Regions from separate parts of the Homo sapiens genome. Here region 1 is linked to region 2. Evidence: fine-mapped expression QTL. A gene starts in region 2. The other region holds a variant in brackets. All regions are shown on one strand. Distances are from middle to middle.

What was found. PIP is the estimated chance that this variant, and not a neighbour inherited with it, causes the effect.
Region 1: its variant is fine-mapped to the expression of KLC2-AS1 in thyroid (GTEx, PIP above 0.99). The same link has a PIP of 0.9 or more in esophagus mucosa, lung, skeletal muscle, spleen and tibial nerve.

The regions. Positions count from the first base shown.
Region 1 is chr11:66,289,529-66,298,556 of GRCh38, forward strand. It overlaps TMEM151A (transmembrane protein 151A), which reads left to right and starts at 2,366. Exons shown (of 2, transcript NM_153266.4): 1 at 2,366-2,560; 2 at 4,794-7,136. The coding sequence starts at 2,486. The coding sequence ends at 6,125. The variant A/C (reference allele first, on the strand shown) is at 4,234.
Region 2 is chr11:66,258,975-66,268,794 of GRCh38, forward strand. KLC2-AS1 (KLC2 antisense RNA 1) reads right to left here and starts at 6,712. Exons shown (of 6, transcript NR_186327.1): 1 at 6,378-6,712; 2 at 6,169-6,246; 3 at 5,730-5,888; 4 at 4,717-4,906; 5 at 2,751-3,038; 6 at 593-868. It overlaps KLC2 (kinesin light chain 2), which reads left to right. Exons shown (of 16, transcript NM_001318734.2): 3 at 2,768-2,998; 4 at 3,149-3,218; 5 at 3,840-4,062; 6 at 4,686-4,773; 7 at 4,877-4,978; 8 at 5,072-5,245; 9 at 5,371-5,470; 10 at 6,049-6,098; 11 at 6,194-6,261; 12 at 6,681-6,789; 13 at 6,880-7,038; 14 at 7,119-7,243; 15 at 7,459-7,516; 16 at 7,899-8,886. The coding sequence ends at 7,982. RAB1B (RAB1B, member RAS oncogene family) reads left to right here and starts at 9,665. Exons shown (of 6, transcript NM_030981.3): 1 at 9,665-9,719. The coding sequence starts at 9,706. It overlaps KLC2-AS2 (KLC2 antisense RNA 2), which reads right to left and starts at 9,437. Exons shown (of 3, transcript NR_186342.1): 1 at 9,325-9,437; 2 at 9,081-9,234; 3 at 8,575-8,857. RefSeq lists enhancers at 1-295, 7,235-8,117, 8,874-8,923, 9,224-9,273, 9,394-9,723 and silencers at 8,374-8,423, 8,444-8,763.

The DNA of each region.
Region 1 (9,028 bases), 30 kb after region 2:
CGCCTGTTTCTCCCTCTCTGGGCTTGTTTTCCTCCCCCGTCACCTACACTTCACCCAATCTTGGAACGGAGCCCCGGCAGACCCGGAGGTGGTGGTGGGAGGCCGGACCTATCAGTGACAGAGCTGCCAAGCAAGCCCCAGGATGCTGACTCCACCCGCCTCCCACTCCTCTTCTCCGCGCGGGTGCTGTCCGTCGTCCGGTGCTGAAAATGTCCTCCCGCCTCAGCCGCCATCCTGTAGACTCCCGGGGGCCTGCGTATGGGAAGATTTGGGGTCTCGAACCACACGCTCCTAGCGAGCGCGTGGCCGCACGCACACATACACGCATACTGCAAAACTGGGGCCCAGAGGATCCGAAGTCTGAGAGATTGGGTGGTATAGGTGGGGCAGGATCCTGCCCCGGGCCTGTCCCATAGACTCTCCCGTAGTCCAGCAGATTTGGGGGCAGAGGTGTGCTGATTTGCGTCCTGAAGCTGCAGCCTAAACTCCTGAGTCATCGCCGGGCCTGTGGTCTTCTTGAAGTGAGGCCCCTAAGCCTCACTTGTAGTCCCGGGGGTTCCTTTCTCTCCACCCAGGTTCTGATCACTCCCAACCCCGCGGAGACAGTCTTCAGGGGCCTCCCTCTCACAGACCTTCAGCCACCGCTTTCTAGAGAGCATGAGCAGGTTCTCTGCGACCTCTCTAATTAGCTACCAGGTATCCAGTTACACCAGATGACCTTCCTGCTCCCCAAACTCAGCCCACGTGGTCTGATTGCAGTGCCATTGCCCAGAGGTCCCCTCCACCTGGGATGCCCTTCCCCCTCATATCCACTTGTCCATAAGCCTAGTTATCTTTAAGAGTTAGTTCATCTCGTGCCTCTCAGAGGGACAAAGGGGACAGAGACCTGACCCGGTCAGGGGTGGAGGTCATAGGTTGGGTTCTAGGCCCCCTCTGGGTGCACCCAATTTGCCCTGCATGTAAGTTCCATGAGGACAGGCCCTGTTGTCATTCTCCACTTCCACCCTTGTCTTCCCAGTGCCAAGCACAATACTTGCATATGGAAGACACCCAATAAACATCTGTGTCCAAGAAATTCATAATAAATAGATAAAACCCTGGACCAGTCCTTTCCTGTGTCCACATCTCAATTACCTAATCTTTAAGTGGGTAAGGATGTTTAATTGAATGGTCTTTGAGTTGCTCTTTGCCTGAACACACGCACATACAAAAATGAATTAACCCACCAGTATTGCAGCTCATTTTCTGCCCATATTGTCTAGTTTGGGAGCAAAGCCAGACCCAGACACAGATGTGAAGATCTGAGGCCCTGGAGGGCTAGGAGGTAGCACTGGGGCCACGTGTACCTGGGAGGGGGTCATCTAATGCAAGTCAGTTCCCATGTCACTGCAGGGCACAATGGATACTTGTAAACTGAATCCAAAACCTTTCTATGTCTTTTCTTTTCCTTCTTTCTTTCTTTATTTCTTTTTCTCCCTTTCTTTCTGTCTTCTTCTTCTTCTCCTTCTCCTTCTCATTCTTCTTCTCCTTCTAGGCAGGGTCTCACTTTATCACGCAGCTGGAGAACAGTGGTGCAAACACAGCTCACTGCAGCCTCTTACTCCCAGACTCAATTGATCCTCCTGTCTTAGCCTCCCAAGTAGCTGGGAATACAGGTGCACACCACACCATCATGCCCAGCTCATTTTTTAATTTTTTGTATAGGCAGGGTTTCGCCATGTTTCCAAGGCTGCTGGAATTCCTGGACTCCAGTGATCCTCCCACCTCGGTCTCCCAAAGTGCTGGGATTACAGGCATGAGCCACTCAGTCCAGCTTTTATCCCCATTTTTCAGATGGGAAAACTGAGGTTGAGAGTGGAGCATGCTGGCCCAAGGTCACGCAGCCTAGGGTCCCTTGTGTCCTGGCCCCAGCCTGCCTGTCCTAAGCTGAGCCCAGCACCCCTGCCCAGCCAGTGAGACTCGTCACGCTTTTCTCAGCTGTAACTACCCTCTTCTCCAAGTGAGGCTTCAGGGATGGGATCTGGGTGGGCTTAACTCTGGGCCTACTCCTTAGAGATGGGACCCCGCGAGCGCCCACCCACCTTGGAGATTCTCCTTCCTCGAGGGTTTTACAGCCCGGGAAGCTCAGGCGCCAGAGGGTTAGACCAGCTCAAGGTCGCGAGCGCGAGCGCGGCCGGAGGAGAACCCAGGGGTCCAGCCGCCCAGCGGGGGCTTCTCGGGGACGGGCGGAGCGCCCGCGGTGCCAGGCGCTGCCGGCGGCGCCGCCGGTGCCGCGGGGGCGGGGTCAGCGGAGGGCGGGGCGCCTGGCACCCGGGCCGCCAACGCCGCCGCCGCCGCTGCCGCCGCGCTCGGGCTCGAGCTCCGCGCACTCCCTCCGCGGCCGCTGAGCCGAGCGGACGCCCCCGGGGGCCGCGTCGCAGCCCTCCGTGCTCCCCCCTATCATGCCCGGTGCCCAGGCTGGGGCCGCCCAAGCAGCCAGGACACCATGCCCGAGGACGGCGCTGGCGACGGCGGGGAGGTGCCCGCGCTCATCCCGGACGGCGAGCCGCTGCGGGAAGAGGTACCGGCGCTGGGGGGGCCGGAGCCGGGCCTGGGGCGGCGTGAGAGGGACCAGTGCAAAAGGCGACCCCAAGAGAGGGGCTGAGGAGGGAAGTCCCAGAGCCCCTACGGCCAATGACGTCATTGGGGTCACCTGCGCCCTGCCAAGGGTCCAGGGGCCCGCGTTGGGGGTAGGGGTGGGGCGGCTGGACAGCAATATGCGGGGCGACTTCCGCCCCCGGCGTCCCCTCATCCAGCCTCGCCCGTCCTGTGACGTCAGTGCCTGGCCCCCACGCGTCCCAGTGCCGCAGCGCAGCGGGGGATGCTGCCCCCACCCCCAGGGCCGCGGGGTCAGGTCCCCAGCCCGGCCCAGCCGCTCACGAGGTGTCCGGGCAGCGCCTGCAATGCAGCAGCAGTCGCAGAGCCTAGAGGGGAGGAGGGGAAGAGGAAGGGAGGCGCCTGGGTACCCCTTCTCCTTGTCCTCGAGGTGAGGATTGAGGGCCCATTCTGCTGGCTGGGACCCCCGACGGCCCCTCCTCAGCCCTAGCCAGGAAGGTCTGCAGGACCTGGGGCCCCGAGTGATGTGTGGGGTGATAGGGTGGTGAGTGGGGCTGTGCATGCATTTGGGTGAATGTAGCCTGCTTCTGTGTGTGTGTTGTGTGGGTGTGTGAATTGGGTGTGTGCGCCCTGTAGTCAGGTGAGGGGCGAGTGGGTGCCTGGCTCGGGTTGTCACCCAGTGGTCTAGGTGTGCGCATGTGAGTGAGTCCCTTTGTGGGCAGGTCTCTCCCTGTGGAGTCTGAGGAGCCTGGGGGTCAGTTTGCAGTGGGGGGTGGGGAGATGTGCACTGTGGTCAGGTGAAGGTCTGGTATGTCTCTGGGCTTCACTGCACGTGCAACGTGTATGTGCACGTGTGTGTCCTGTGGTGGATGGGTATGTGGTGTGTGCGTGTGTGTGTGTATGTGTGTGTACCATGCTACGGTTCTGGGAGTCTGTGCCCTGGGGACAGGCGAGGGTCTGGAGTTTCCTGGGTGACAGGCAGTGTGGCCCTCCACGGTGGGTGGGTCTGTGATGAGCATGTGTTGGAGGGGCGTGGACAAGTGTGTGTGCACCTGACAGGCCTTGCAGGTCAGCTGGCGCTGTGCTCCCATGCTGGGTGATGGGGACAGGCTGTATCTGGGCTGGGCTAGGGGGTGGTTCCTCTCCTCTTGGGCCTCTGGAGGCCTGGTAGGTCTGGGGTAGGAGAGGTGGCCCCTTAACCCCCCTTTTGTTGTTTCCACTTTTTTCCTCCCCTTTTTACCCTTCCCCTCGCCCCACTTTATCCCTACCTGCTTCTCTCTCCATGGCACCTGAGGGTGAGGTGGCTAGGCTGGCAGCCCTGCCAGGGAGGGTGTGGCAAGCCCTCTGAGCCAGGGAGTGGCCCCTGCTGCCCAGTAGCTGTGTCCCACCCCCTTGCTCAGCACAGATGGGGAGTGGAGGATGGCCCTCCATCTGCTCCCCACCCCAAGACTCGCACCTCCCCCGTTCTTGAGGCTCCCTCTTTCTCATCAACTCAAAAGCCTCTGCCGAGACTTCTGAGTCCCTATGGAACAAGGGACCAGAGGGAGTCTCAGGGTAATGGTGATCATATTTATTCCCATGGCCAGACCCTGTGCTCACTTCTTCACACATATGATCTTGTTGAATCCTCACAATAGA[A/C]CCAGTTTACAGATGAGGAAATTGAGGTCCAGAGAGGATGAGGGACCTGCCCAAGTCATACAGTAAGTAGTGGAGCCAGCACTGGCTCCTGGGCAGTGGAACTCCAAAGCCCATGCTGTTTACACCTCAGACCCCTTCCACCCTGGCTTCCCAAACCAACAGGACCAAGAATCAAGGCCCAGAGAGGGCAGAGATATAGCCAAGTCCACACAGCAAATCAGGGCAGAGCCAGGACCAGAACCCACAATAGCCAGTGCAAGGATCCATCCCTCCTGGCTGAGGTGGGCCTGCTGTCTCCTGTGTGCGGTTTGCCGAGTGCTAGCACGGCACAGTGGAGGATGGGTTTGGGGCAGCGAGTCCTGGGTTTGAATATGCAGCGCCACTGTGAGTGAGCTGGAAATGTGAAGCCTGGAGCAAGCTGCTCATCCCTCTAAGCCTCAGTTTCCTCCTCTGTAAAATGGGGCTCACGGTATCACCTTCCTCAGCCGGGTTAAGCAAAGTGGCAGGCCCCACTGATGGCCCCACCTGACACAGACTTCCCTTTCTCTGCCCACCTGCAGCAGCGGCCCCTGAAACAGTCCCTGGGAAGCTCCCTGTGCCGCGAGTCGCACTGGAAGTGCCTGCTCCTCACGCTGCTCATCCACGCCTGCGGGGCCGTGGTGGCCTGGTGTCGCCTGGCCACAGTGCCGCGGCTGGTCCTGGGGCCCGAGGCCGCCTTGGCCCGGGGAGCCGGGGGCCCGCCACCGACCTACCCGGCCAGCCCCTGCTCCGATGGCTACCTGTACATCCCGCTGGCCTTCGTCTCCCTCCTCTACCTCCTCTACCTGGCTGAGTGCTGGCACTGTCACGTGCGGTCCTGCCAGGCGCCACGCACCGACGCCCACACGGTGCTGGCGCTGATCCGCCGGCTGCAGCAGGCGCCGCCGTGCGTCTGGTGGAAGGCCACCAGCTATCACTACGTGCGGCGCACACGCCAGATCACGCGCTACCGCAACGGCGACGCCTACACCACCACGCAGGTGTACCATGAGCGCGCTGACAGCCGCACGGCCCGCGGCGAGTTTGACTACTCGGCGCACGGCGTCCGCGACGTCTCCAAGGAGCTGGTGGGGCTGGCGGAGCACGCGGCCACGCGGCTGCGCTTCACCAAGTGCTTCAGCTTCGGCAGCGCGGAGGCCGAGGCCTCGTACCTCACGCAGCGGGCGCGCTTCTTCAGCGCCAACGAGGGCCTGGACGACTATCTGGAGGCGCGCGAGGGCATGCACCTGAAGGACGTAGACTTCCGCGAGTCGCTCATGGTCTTCGCCGACCCCCGCAGCCCGCCCTGGTACGCGCGCGCCTGGGTCTTCTGGCTCGTGTCGGCGGCCACGCTGTCGTGGCCCCTGCGCGTCGTGGCCGCCTATGGCACGGCTCACGTGCACTACCAGGTGGAGAAGCTCTTTGGCGCCAGCTCGCCCCCGCCGGGGGCCGTGCCCAGCGGGCCCCCGCTGTCCCGCGTGGCCACAGTGGACTTCACTGAGCTCGAGTGGCACATCTGCTCCAACCGGCAGCTGGTGCCCAGCTACTCGGAGGCCGTGGTCATGGGCGCGGGCTCGGGCGCCTACCTCAGAGGCTGCCAGCGCTGCCGCCGCTCTGTCAGCAGCAACTCGCTGCCCCCCGCCCGGCCCAGCGGGCCCCGCCTGCCCTTCAGCCGCAGCCGCCTCTCGCTGGGCGCTGGCGGCCGGGCCACGCCAGGGGTCTTCCGCAGCCTGAGCGGGGGGCCGCTGGGGCGCCGTGGAGAGGACACGGAACCCCTGGAGAGCCCGCCCTGCTATGAGGACGCCCTCTACTTCCCGGTGCTCATTGTCCACGGAGACAGCGGCTGCCAGGGGGATGGGCAGGGTGCTCTCTGAGACCCCCCACGGCCCCCAGAGTGGCCCCCTCCCCACCATTCCACCATGGGCTTAGATGCCCGAGTGATTGTTGTCCAAAACAGGCGGGAAAACAGACCAGCCACACACAAGGGGCAGGGGTGAGGGTGGGGGTGGGGGTCCTTAAACAGACTAAAATGCAGTTACCTGTGGTCATTTTGGAGGAAGTGGAAGCCTAAGAATCGCCCCCAGCATGGCTTCATCCCCCAAGATGGCCGATGATCTGGCCTGAAGGCCTCTCACAAAGGGCAGGAGAAGAAGCTTCCAGAAAGGCTGGGATGGAGGAGGAGTCCTGCGGCCAGCTGTTGCCTGCAGCAGAGGCTGCCTGTGGACACTTCCCTACCGGGGCTGAGGCCATGCTGGGAGCCCCCCCAGTGACGCAGAAGCACAAATTGGAGGCTTGGGGCCATGCCCAGCCAGGTTGGCTTCCCTGGGGCTGAAGAGCTGGCTGTGGTGGCACCATGGCCTTGGCCCTGCTACTCACCCAACATTCCCATCCTCCCCTGATAGGCCCCTCCTCCTTGCCTGCCCTCTCTCCCGCTGCTCAGGGCCAGTCACTCCCCCCACATGCAGCTACCCCTACAACCTGGGGTTCCTTCTCAGGGCCTCACCTGGTCCCCACATCCCCTGGCCTCTGCTCCTGCCTCCCAAAGTCCATGTCTGCCTCCATCAGCCACACACACGCAGGGACGCCCGTTCCTTGCCCTCCCGGACTTATCTACTCTTCACTTTCCTGATGATCCATGGGGCCCAGGCCTAGAGGGCATCCGAGGGGCTGGGCCTTGGCCACAGCCTCTTGGATGATGTCCTTGCTCCACCACGCAGGCCCTTGCTTCTCCCATCAACGAGTCTTGGCCCAGGGGACACTGACCCTCCCCCAGGGAGGAGAGAGGAGTTCCTTCCCTTTCAACGAGGGCTTCCACGCCCTCTAAGGGGTGGCGGGGAAGGGAGGAGGCTGAGAAGATGCAGATTAAATAAAGGTATGGAATGGAAGGCCTGTGCATTCCTGGGTCATGGGTCTAAGGCCTCCACTGCAAGCATTATGGGCCCCCATGGTTCAGGGCACGATGAGGGGTTCTGGGAAGGGACTCAGAATTGGGCTCCAGTGTTCCCAGGAACCAAGTAAGCAGAGGAGAGGAAACCTCCCCTGCCTAGCCTGGGGCCTCTGAGACTCAAGTGTGAGGCGCTCTGAGCACCTGGCTCCCCTGACTCCGGTATCTGGGCCTGGGTCACTGCTAAGGCATTGTCAAGGTGGCCCTTGTTCCAGCTCAGTGGGACATTCCACTCTGCTGCTGGGCATGCCGAGGGCTAAGGGAGTGGTGGCCGGTCCCCAAAGTGGGGAGAAAGAGCTATGGTCTGTGACTCGAATTCGGTGCCCCCCCAGCGGCTACTGACATTATCAATCTGAGGGAAAGGGCATGAAGCAGGTCAGAAGACACAAAGCTGGAAAGGGCAGCCCCAAACCAGGGCAGGCTGGCATGGAATCCAAAGGCAGAGAAAACATCAGGGAAAAGGAAGGTCCTGACTCCCTGATGGAGCTCTGAAAGATTCCTGGACGTGGCATTGTCACATGTGCAGCAGTAAAGGGTGTTCACTGTGCAAGGGCAGTGGGCTAAGGGGCAAGCGTGCATGGAATCCAGCCTACAGGCCACTCCCCAAACTCTGGCATGGAGCTACATCCACTTGGAGAAAGGGGACCGTTTTCCTTTTCACGCAAAGGTGGCTTAAGGGCTAGTGGTGGCCCGGGAAGTGTGCTGAGAATGGGTGGATTTCACTAAGCAAAGACATGGCAAGCAATGTCTTGGACAGCCGATGCTGCCCAGACAAAGGCCTGGTTGTCGGGCATGAGCTGAGGTGTGACAAGGAGATAGAAGCAAGAAGCCATGGAAGGCTTTGCTGCAGCTTCCATGCCAAACCCTAGAATTTGTCCTTAAACTGGAGCAAACTGGGCAATCTGGAACCATGGAAGGGGGTTGGGCAGGGACGTGATACAGTCAAGGCTGCATTTTAGGATATTTAGCAAAAGTCCAGCGACCTGCTGGCTCTGTCGGGAGGGTGGAGTGAAAGACCAGAGTTCTCCCTGTGCGTTAACCCACAGCCTCTCTTCTTTGGGTGTGAAATCAGTTCCTCGTTCAGAAGCAAATTAGGTGGAAAACCCTGTGGTGCCCAAACATTCAACAAGGCTGCAGGGGGTGGCCAGGCACAGTGGCTCATGCCTGTAATTCCAGCACTTTCGGAGGCCGGGGCAGACAGATCATTTGAGGTCAGGAGTTTGAGATCAGCCTGGCCAACATGGTGAGACACCCCCCACCCCCGTCTTTACAAAAAATACAAAAATTAGCTGGGTGTGGTGGCGGGCACCTGTGACAGCTACTCAGGAGGCTGAGGCAGGAGAATCGCTTGAACCCGAGAGGCAGAGGATGCAGTGAGCTGAAATTGCGCCACTGCACTCCACCTGAGACTGTCAAAAAAAAAAAAAAAAAAAAAGGCTCCAGCAGGTAGGGAGGCCAGCATGCTGGTTTCAGCTCCTTGCCATGGGAAAGACCCTTTTTCCACCATTCTGCTCTAACACCATAGCCAACAACTGCCCACTGGCCACTCACTGTCCATTCTCCTCCCTTCCCCAATAACAGAACCCCAGTTTTGCTGCAGAAGGCAATGTGCCCAGCTAAAGGGCAACATTTCCAGCCTCCCTGGCATATATGGTATGACTGTGTGGCTGAATTCTAGGATATTAGATATAAACAGAAGGTGCTGGAAGGGATCTCCAAGAATGCCCCTTGAATAGAAGCAGTATTGATGAAGGCCATTTTTGTCCTCTCTGCTTCAGCCTGCATTCAGCCTTGGATGCATATGTGATAGCTGGAACGCCAGCAGCCATCTTG
Region 2 (9,820 bases):
AATGCACTTTGGCGACCCCAGCCCTGCCCTAAGAGACCATGATCACCCTTGCCCCCACGCAGAGCCCCATTTCCGGCTCCCCTCTACCTAAGGGAGACTGGATGGCATATGAGAACAGAAAGAAAATCCTTAAGGAAACATAGCCTCCCACCAATTAATTCTTCTATTCACTCGTTAACAGATGAGTTATTGAGGGCCAGCCAGGGTGTTAGGTGGATACAGGGCCCAACAAAATAGACAAGATTCCTGCCCTATTAGAGACAAAAACACACATACAGAAATAATTGGTTGTTACAAATTGTGATGAGTTCTGCAGAGAAAAGAACAAGATTTTATGATAGCTCGCAGCAGCGAGTCTTGTCTACTGGTCAGGCAGGACTTCTGTGAGGAAATGACAAACTGAAACCTGAGGGAAGAAATGAACCAGCCTCCAGGAAAGGGAGGCAGGGGAGAAGTTGCATGTGCAAAGGTCCTGGGGTAGGAAAGAGCTTGTGGTGGAGGAACTCAGGGAAGAACTGTGTGACTGGAGCTTCATGGAAGGGAGACAGGGACAGAAGAGGCCTGGGGAGAAGCCAAGAACCAGATCATGGCCTGGTTGGTTTGGGTTTTATTCTCAGGAAATCAGAAAGCCTCTGGAGGGCTTTAAGCAGGCAGGCAACACAGTCTGACTTGAGTTTCTAAAAACTCTCTCTGGCTGAGATGTGGAGAATAAACCTCAGTGGGTCGAGGATGGAATCACTCTCCAATGAGTGGTTAGGAAGCCACTGCTGGAATTCAAATGAGAGCTGGTGCTTGGAATTAAGGGGTGGCTATGACGGTGGAGAAAAGGGACCAGTTCTGGATGTTCTGGAGGTAGGTCCAGCAAGACCTGGGGGTGGAATAAGGGAGAGAGAGAGGAAGGCAGCATCACTCCCAAGTTTGTGATTTAAGCAAATTAAGGGAGGAGAGGGCCTTGGTGGATCAGAACTCTGTTTTGGCCTCCTTTAATTGAGGCTGCCAGGATGATATGCAGTTGGAGATGTCCAGGAGCCATTGGGATGTACAAGGAGTTAGACTTGTTTTATTCCCCTCAGAGCTTGGCTGAGCCCCTGCCTGGCACGTGAACCCTGGGGAAGTTGTATCATTTTGGTTTCCTTGTCTTTAAAATAGGGATCATGCCATCTGCTGTGTACACTTCCAGGCTGTTGGGGGAATTTTTTTTTTTTTTTAAAGCTAGTGGTTATGGAAACACCTGTCACTTAGGCATTTGCTAACCAACAACAAAGTACAGGGTCTCAGACAGCCTGGCCCTCTGCAAGGACATTCACTCCCTGCCAGTTGGCCGTCAGAGGTAGAGAGGACCACTCAGGGGCCGCACACCTGGTGGAGCACGTGCACTCTCACAGAGGGGGAACAATCTGCACGGAGGGCATGGGCATCAAGGCCATGTGTGAAGCTGGAGCAAAGTGGGAGGTGTGACTAGCTGGAGACACAACTGCAGAAATGATCCTGAACCGGGAAGGACTGGGAAAGGGTGGAGGCCGGGTGTGGTGGCTCACGCCTGTAATTCCAGCACTTTGGGAGGCCCAGGTGGGAAGACTGCTTAAATCCCGGACTTCATGAGACCCTGTATCTACAAAAAATAATTTTTCTTTTTTTTTTTGAGACAGTCTTGCTCTGTTGCCCAGGCTGGAGTATAGTGGCACGATCTCAGCTCACTGCAGCCTCTGCCTCTCAGGTTCAAGTGATTCTCCTGCCTCAGCCTCCTGAGTAGCTGGGACTACAGGCACGCGCCACCACACCCAGCTAATTTTTGTATTTTTGGTAGAGATGGGGTTTCACCATGTTGGCCAGGATGGTCTTGAAATCCTGACCTCGTGATCTGTCCGCCTCAGCCTCCTGAAGTGCTAGGATTACAGGCGTGAGCCACCGTGCCTGGCCAAAAAATTTTTTAAATTAGCCAGCTGTGGTGGTGTGCACCCGTAGTCCCAGTTACTCAGGAGGCTGAGGGGGAAGGACCACTTGAGCCTGGAAGGTAGAGGCTGCAGTGAGCTGTGACGGTGCCATAGCCCTTCGGCCCAGGTGACAGAGTGAGACATTGTCTTAAATTAAAAAAAAAAAAAAAAAAGAGAGAGCAAGAAGGGAGGTTGGACCCTAGGCAGGAAGGCAGGAAGAGACTGGAAACTAAGGAAAGGAGTTGCAGAGGCTGGGGAGAGGGGTGGGGGTTGAGGCCAAGGCCTTTGGATACTTTTCCTGCCCCTGTGGCTCCTCATGCCAACTGAGCATTTGGGACACATGCCCCTTCCCTACCTGGGAGCTGCAGAAAGGCAGGGGATGCTGTGGCCCCTCAGCAGAAGTGGGGATGGAGTCTTTGGGTGGTCCTTCAGCCATCTAGCAGAGTTCTGTGGGCAAGCGCTAGCCCTGAGGCAGGGAGCAGTAACCTACTGGCTGTGGCAGCAGAGGCTTGAGTACAACCCAGGGAGAGACGAAGGAAGGGGCTAGTAGCTCAGGGAAAGCACAGCACCCCAACTAGCCCTTTTGGGGTTCTCCTGATCCTAGAAGGAAGGAACTGGGGACTCCCAAGCCTCCTGGGTTTGGGCTTTGCATTATGGTGTGTCGGGGGCCTTGAGGAGATTCTCCCTTGACAAGCAGAGAAAAGACCTGCAGCTCCTCACTGTAGGGCCAGGCCTGGCCCTTCACTGGGTGCCAGAGCCCAACTAGGCCCAGGCTACAGTCATAGGCGAGGGGGTCGACAGGCCTCCGACCCTTACCTGGGCTGGTTGCACAGGTGATCTTGGCATTGTCGAGCCACCTGGGGGCTGTAGAATCAGAGAAGCAGAAGCTGCGGGCGCAGGTGCGGCGTCTGGTGCAGGAGAACCAGTGGCTGCGTGAGGAGCTGGCGGGGACACAGCAGAAGCTGCAGCGCAGTGAGCAGGCCGTGGCCCAGCTCGAGGAGGAGAAGCAGCACTTGCTGTTCATGAGCCAGATCCGCAAGTTGGATGAAGACGCCTCCCCTAACGTGAGCTCCTACCATGGTCACTGTTGCCCAGCAAGGAGGCCTGGGAGCAGGGAGGGGCAGCATGGAGCAGATTCGGCTCCACCCCAGCCCATGGACACCCCGGCTGCCCTGTGCCTCCTTCCCTGATGCTCATCCTGTCTTCCTTCCCAGGAGGAGAAGGGGGACGTCCCCAAAGACACACTGGATGACCTGTTCCCCAATGAGGATGAGCAGAGCCCAGGTGCGGATGGGCAGTTCTGGAGTGGGGGAAGGAAAGGTTGTGTGAACTCTTGGTCCTTGGGACCGAGTGGCTGCCATGTTCCTTCCTGCCTCACTTCTGATCATGACATCCTAGTGTGTTAGAGCTTCAAGAACAGTTGTACGTGCTGCTGCTTCTCACATCCCCCCAGCTCTGTGGTGAGCAGACATCACAATTAGCTGTGGAGTCACCAGCCTGGCTTCCAGTGCTGCTCTGCCACTAGCTTCCCTGACCCTTGGGAGAGTTCTCTTCCTCTCCGAATCACCTCTGAAGGAGGCACATGCAGACAGCCACAATGGGGCCAGTGCCTGCTTTGCTGATGGTACTGGTTATGCATCGGGGCCTCCACTCTGTACACAGGGACACAGGCTCAGAGGTTAGGCAGCTTGCCCCAGGACACAGAGCCTGAAGTACTGGAGCTGGGCCTCTACCCCCTCTTTCTATGGGGTAACTAGACCCATTCTATAAATGGGGAAACTGAGAAAGAGTGGTTAGTGACTTGCCCAGGGCCATGTGTCAAGTGGCTCAAAGGCACAGCTGGCATGTGCCATCCCAGTCCAGTGGGCAGATGGTACATCTGACCTCCTGCCCTTGGCCCTGCAGCCCCTAGCCCAGGAGGAGGGGATGTGTCTGGTCAGCATGGGGGCTACGAGATCCCGGCCCGGCTCCGCACCCTGCACAACCTGGTGATCCAATACGCCTCACAGGGCCGCTACGAGGTAGCTGTGCCACTCTGCAAGCAGGCACTCGAAGACCTGGAGAAGACGTCAGGCCACGACCACCCTGACGTTGCCACCATGCTGAACATCCTGGCACTGGTCTATCGGTGAGGACTCTCTGGGGGTGCCCAAATTCTTCTGGAAGGCTCCAGCCCTGGATCACTAACCCTTGGTGCCTGCTGTGGGCCAGGACTCGTGGCCCACCTGCGTGGAGCTGGGCTACAGATGCAAGTAAAACTGTCTAGTGTAAGAGAGAGGCTTGGCCAGAACTGGGGAGGGACTGCACATGAGGACTCCAGGGGTCCTGGGGAGTCCACACAGCTTCTCCAGGCACCAAGGCTGGAGGAGGGGCTTTGCCAGAAAGTGAGTTTGCCCAAACACAAGAGGGCTAGAAAAGGTTCCCATGGCAAAAAGCCAGCATGAGCAAAGGCACTGGGACCTGGAGAGCAGGACACGCTAAAGGGGCAGCAGGAGAGCCATGTGGCGCCCAGGAATGCTAGGCACCAGGCAGTCGGTGGGACCCCAGCACTGCGCACCCCAGCCAATTGTGAGAAAACTGCCTACAGCCCTTGGAGCTTGGAGAGCAGGAGCTGAGCAGGTCTCCCCACACTCTGGGTCTCACTCTGTCATACACACTCAGTGAGTACAGGAGTGACCACAGGGATTGCAGACCATTGGGGAGGGCCTTGAGCTGGAGGACAGCCCTGACCATGCTCCTACCTGCTCCCAGGGATCAGAACAAGTACAAGGAGGCTGCCCACCTGCTCAATGATGCTCTGGCCATCCGGGAGAAAACACTGGGCAAGGACCACCCAGCCGTGAGTGAGGGTTGGGTGGGAGGTGGGGGCTGTGCCCCATCCCCTGCAGGTCCCAGAGTCCTGCAGGGCCTGAGTCAAGAAGCTTCCGTTCTCCCACCTCCAGGTGGCTGCGACACTAAACAACCTGGCAGTCCTGTATGGCAAGAGGGGCAAGTACAAGGAGGCTGAGCCATTGTGCAAGCGGGCACTGGAGATCCGGGAGAAGGTGGGAACAGGCAGGGCTGGGCAGGCTGGGGGTCTGGGAGGCAGGGGCCCGGGCAGCCCTGAGCCCAACCCCTGGCTCCCTCTCCCATCCCAGGTCCTGGGCAAGTTTCACCCAGATGTGGCCAAGCAGCTCAGCAACCTGGCCCTGCTGTGCCAGAACCAGGGCAAAGCTGAGGAGGTGGAATATTACTATCGGCGGGCACTGGAGATCTATGCTACACGCCTCGGGCCCGATGACCCCAATGTGGCCAAGACCAAGAACAACCTGGTACCTTGGGGCTGAGAGGAGCTGGAGGATGGGAAGGAGGGAGGCAGGGATGAGGTTGGGGAAGAAGGAGAGAAAAAGGCTTGGCTGCATGCATCCCGCTCACTCTCTGGGTCTCCCGCTTCCAGGCTTCCTGCTACCTGAAGCAGGGCAAGTACCAGGATGCGGAGACCTTGTACAAGGAGATCCTCACCCGCGCTCATGAGAAAGAGTTTGGCTCTGTCAATGGTGAGTGCGTGGTCACCAGGTGCCTCTAGCCCATCCATCCCAGGCCCACTCTGCCATCAGCACCCAGGACAAATCCCTCAGCAGGGCAGGCCCTCAGGCTTTGGCCTGGCTGGTCACCAGCCTCACCCTCAGATGGTGCCCAGCCACCTGTGCTCACGTTTGCACACATGAGCACACACCCAACTCACGCAGCCCCCTTGGCCTGCTAGGGCCTCACACGCCTTTGCATCCCCCTTCTCCACTGGCGATTCTTGCTCACCTTGAGGGCCTGCCCCAGTGTCTCCCACTCTGGGAAACCACCTCTGGCCCCGGATGGTCAGTCATCTGCTCCTGAGTCCCTCGGAGCCTGGCCCATCATTCAGGCCTAGCACATGTCTTGGGCTGTGGCCTGAGGTGCAAGGGTCTGTTCTGCTCATCTCTGTCCAGAAGAGGGTCAGCAGTGTTTTGGGTCTTACTCTTGTTCATGCATTCAACGAAGCCCAACCGTGGTCTCCCCTCCCCTGACCCCAGTCCTGTGTCCAGCCCAACCAGGTGAGACCTATATGGTAGGCTGGTGACAGTCCCCTTTCTCTCCCCAGGGGACAACAAGCCCATCTGGATGCACGCAGAGGAGCGGGAGGAAAGCAAGGTAGCTCTGTGGGGCAGGCTGGGCGGTTGTCAGGGGAGGCTGGGATGTGCAGAGGGGGGCCTGCTCTCACTTCTTGTGACCATTCTTTCCTCCAGGATAAGCGCCGGGACAGCGCCCCCTATGGGGAATACGGCAGCTGGTACAAGGCCTGTAAAGTAGACAGGTGAGTGGGGCGGGGCTGGGCTGGGGAGCAGGGCACGGCAGGGCGGGCTCCACATTCCATACTCTCACCCCCAACACACCCCTCCTCTGCTGCTCATCTGGCAAGGCCCAACTCACAGGTCACCTGTCCCAAGAAGGCTCTGTCTCCCAATTCTCAGCCTAATTCTCTGGCTCTGGGTCTCCCAGCTTTTGGTCCTGGTGACAACATCCCATGAGGGCCCTGGGGCCAGGTCCCCAGCCCTGGGGTGATTTCCCCAGGACAGAAGAGGCTGGGTGGGCCCAGCACAGGGCTTGACATGGGAAGGAATGGATTCTGGCTACCCCGGAGGTCCATGCTTCCTCAGGGCCCACTGTGGGCTGGGTGCCAGGATGGGCCCTGGGTCTGGGGGAACATGGAGTTTGAGACTGTCCCATCCACAGCCCCACAGTCAACACCACCCTGCGCAGCTTGGGGGCCCTATACCGGCGCCAGGGCAAGCTGGAAGCCGCGCACACACTAGAGGACTGTGCCAGCCGTAACCGCAAGCAGGTGGGGCTCCATGCAGGAGGGGGTGGGCAGACACCTGTGTGGCCCTGGGTGTGGTCCATTCACTGCCTGATGCCCCTGCCCCTCCCTCAGGGTTTGGACCCCGCAAGCCAGACCAAGGTGGTAGAACTGCTGAAAGATGGCAGTGGCAGGCGGGGAGACCGCCGCAGCAGCCGAGACATGGCTGGGGGTGCCGGGCCTCGGTCTGAGTCTGACCTCGAGGACGTGGGACCTACAGCTGAGTGGAATGGGGTGAGTCCGGGGCCTGGGCCGGGTCGGGCTGGGAGCCTAGGTGGCCAGCGGGGCCTAGAGGCAAGCCTGTCCACCTGCAGGATGGCAGTGGCTCCTTGAGGCGCAGCGGTTCCTTTGGGAAACTCCGGGATGCCCTGAGGCGCAGCAGTGAGATGCTGGTAAAGAAGCTGCAGGGGGGCACCCCCCAGGAGCCCCCTAACCCCAGGTGAGCCCCCCACCAAGGTGAGCCTCAAGAACCACCCAGCAACCCCGGATGAGCTCCTGACCCAGAGTGTGCCCCACTGACCCCAGGCAACCTCCCCATCCCTCTCAGGCTCCACCACCCACCAGTCTGTTCCCTCCCCAGCCCCACCCTTCTCCCTGCCCCCATCTCCCGTGAGTTCCTCCTTGGGCAAATCCCAGGCTGTCCTTTTCCCTCAGGATGAAGCGGGCCAGTTCCCTCAACTTCCTCAACAAGAGCGTGGAAGAGCCGACCCAGGTAGGGGCAGGCGGGTGTCTGGGCACTGGGCAGCTGCGGCCGGGGCTGCATGCGTGCTGCCAAGCTTCCCTCCAGCATGCCTCTTCATCCAGCAACAGTTCCTGGCTCTGTCTCAGGCCTACTTTGGGCTGGACAACGGGGAGACACGAGGGGAACCCAGCCTCTCCTGGGGGTGGACGTGTAAACGGCCAGTGCTAACACCGTCACTGTGGAGATGGACGGGAGTGTCAGGGCACCAGGGTGTGGCCTTGGGTCAGAACTGCCATTGCCTCTGCCCAGCTCAGGGATTCCGGCTGCCTCTGCCAGGTCAGACCCCTTCAGGCCAGGGAGGCACAGACTGGCAGCAGCACAGGGCTGAGCCACCTGCCCCCTCTGCCCACAGCCTGGAGGCACAGGTCTCTCTGACAGCCGCACTCTCAGCTCCAGCTCCATGGACCTCTCCCGACGAAGCTCCCTGGTGGGCTAATGCTGAAGGGGCAGCCAGTCACCAGAGCGCCCACCTGGCACACCCCCCTCACCCCAGCCCTGCGCATGGGCCTGCTGCTTGTCCCGCCTGTCTCTCCCACAGCCCCTGTCTTTTCTGTTCAATCTCAGGGTAACCTTCTCCCTTGTCATCTCAGCCTGAGCCCTGGAGGCTGGGCCTGCCCACTCCAGCTCCATCCCTTATTTATTCCTTCCAGCAGGGCCCTCTTCCCTAGGTTCGGGCCAGCAGGAGGTGCCGGCTGGAGTCTCCACCATAGACTCAGTGGCCTGGCCTCCCCAGACCCCAGAGCCAAGAACACTAAGCACTCGCCGGCCCTTCGGCACCCTCGCCCTCCCTCCCGACTCAACCCGGCCGTTGCTTCTGTATATAGAGAAATAAGTTATTGGCCGCGCGCCTCCCTTCAGTCCACGGTACTACCCGGGCCTCCCCTCGTCCCTCTTCTAGTGGTACCGCCCAGGCCTTAATCACCCCCATTCCGTGCGGTGGTATCTCCCAGGCTCTACATTCTCGGGAGCGGCGCCTCCCAAGGGGGTCCTGGGACCTTCTCGCGCTCCTCCTGGCCTCTGAGGGATGCGTCCTACCCGCGCCATCGCCCCGTGGCCCAGGACGGGGACCTCCCCTTAGTCCGTCCTCCCACCGCCGGGCCCTGCCCCGCATCCCGGCCTTATGCACTGCCCCTCCCACCCGGCCCCGCCCAGGCACGGCCGACCCCGCCCCGGGCACCGCCCACCGAGCCATCCTGCCTCGCCTCCCCCCACGCCTGCAGCTTCTCGCGAGGGGCGGCGACGGTCCCCTGGTGGCAGGAGGGGCTCCCCCTGTTGCGGGTGAGGCGGCTGCTCTCATATTTTCAGATGTTGCTGTAGAAATAAAGACGGTTTAAATCTGAGCTGGGCTTGTTTTGAGACGGAGGTCGGGGGCCCCCAGCGTCTCTAGACTGGGGTGGAGCCGGGAAGGGTCGTGCGTGAGTGGGGGACAGTGTGTCTCGCTCAACCGCTGTCCGCGCAGCTGGGCCCAGATATTGTGCCCCACCCCGGAATTGCGTGAGGGGCCCACAAGTCAGGCTTTCCCTAAAACACTCACTTGTGGGGTTCTGGAGACCGCGGGCTCTTATGAGCTCTGCTCCTCACAAAGTTTTTGACCTTGAGTGAGTTTCCCGAGACTCAGTTTTTTCATCTATGAAATGCGGGTGATGACGCGCGGCTGCGAGTTAGGACTGCCCAGTACACGAAGAACCCTGGACAAATGTACTTTTATTAGTCTTACTAGAACCCACATTCTCATTTAATGTTCACAACGTGGGTATTGGGAGGGCAAGGATGACTACCTCCGTCAGACAGATGTGAAACGTGCCAAGCCCAGCCCTAAATTGAGCTTTCTAAACACCGAGTCGCGGTCAGGCTTTCCAGCACTGTCCTCAAGCCTGAGTGCGTCCGGAGTGCAAACTACAAGCCCCAGAAGGCAATGCGCCAGCAGTGATGGGAGTGGGCGCGGAGGCGCGGGCTCCCCGACTACGCCTGCGCAGCGGGGCTGAGTTGGAGAACGTCTTAGACTACAAGTTCCGGGAATCAGCGCGGCGAGGCCTGAGAAGAAGACGTTTGCGCCTGCGCGTCGCGGGCGGGGCCTCTGGGGCGGAGCGGCCACCATCTTGGAACGGGAGGCGGAGCAGAGTCGACTGGGAGCGACCGAGCGGGCCGCCGCCGCCGCCATGAACCCCGAATAGTGAGTGAGCCCCGCCCGCGCCGTCCAGCGCAGCCTCGATCCCGAATACAGGGCTGTACGCTTACCGGGGTTGTCTGGCCCGGGTCAGGACTGTGCGGCGC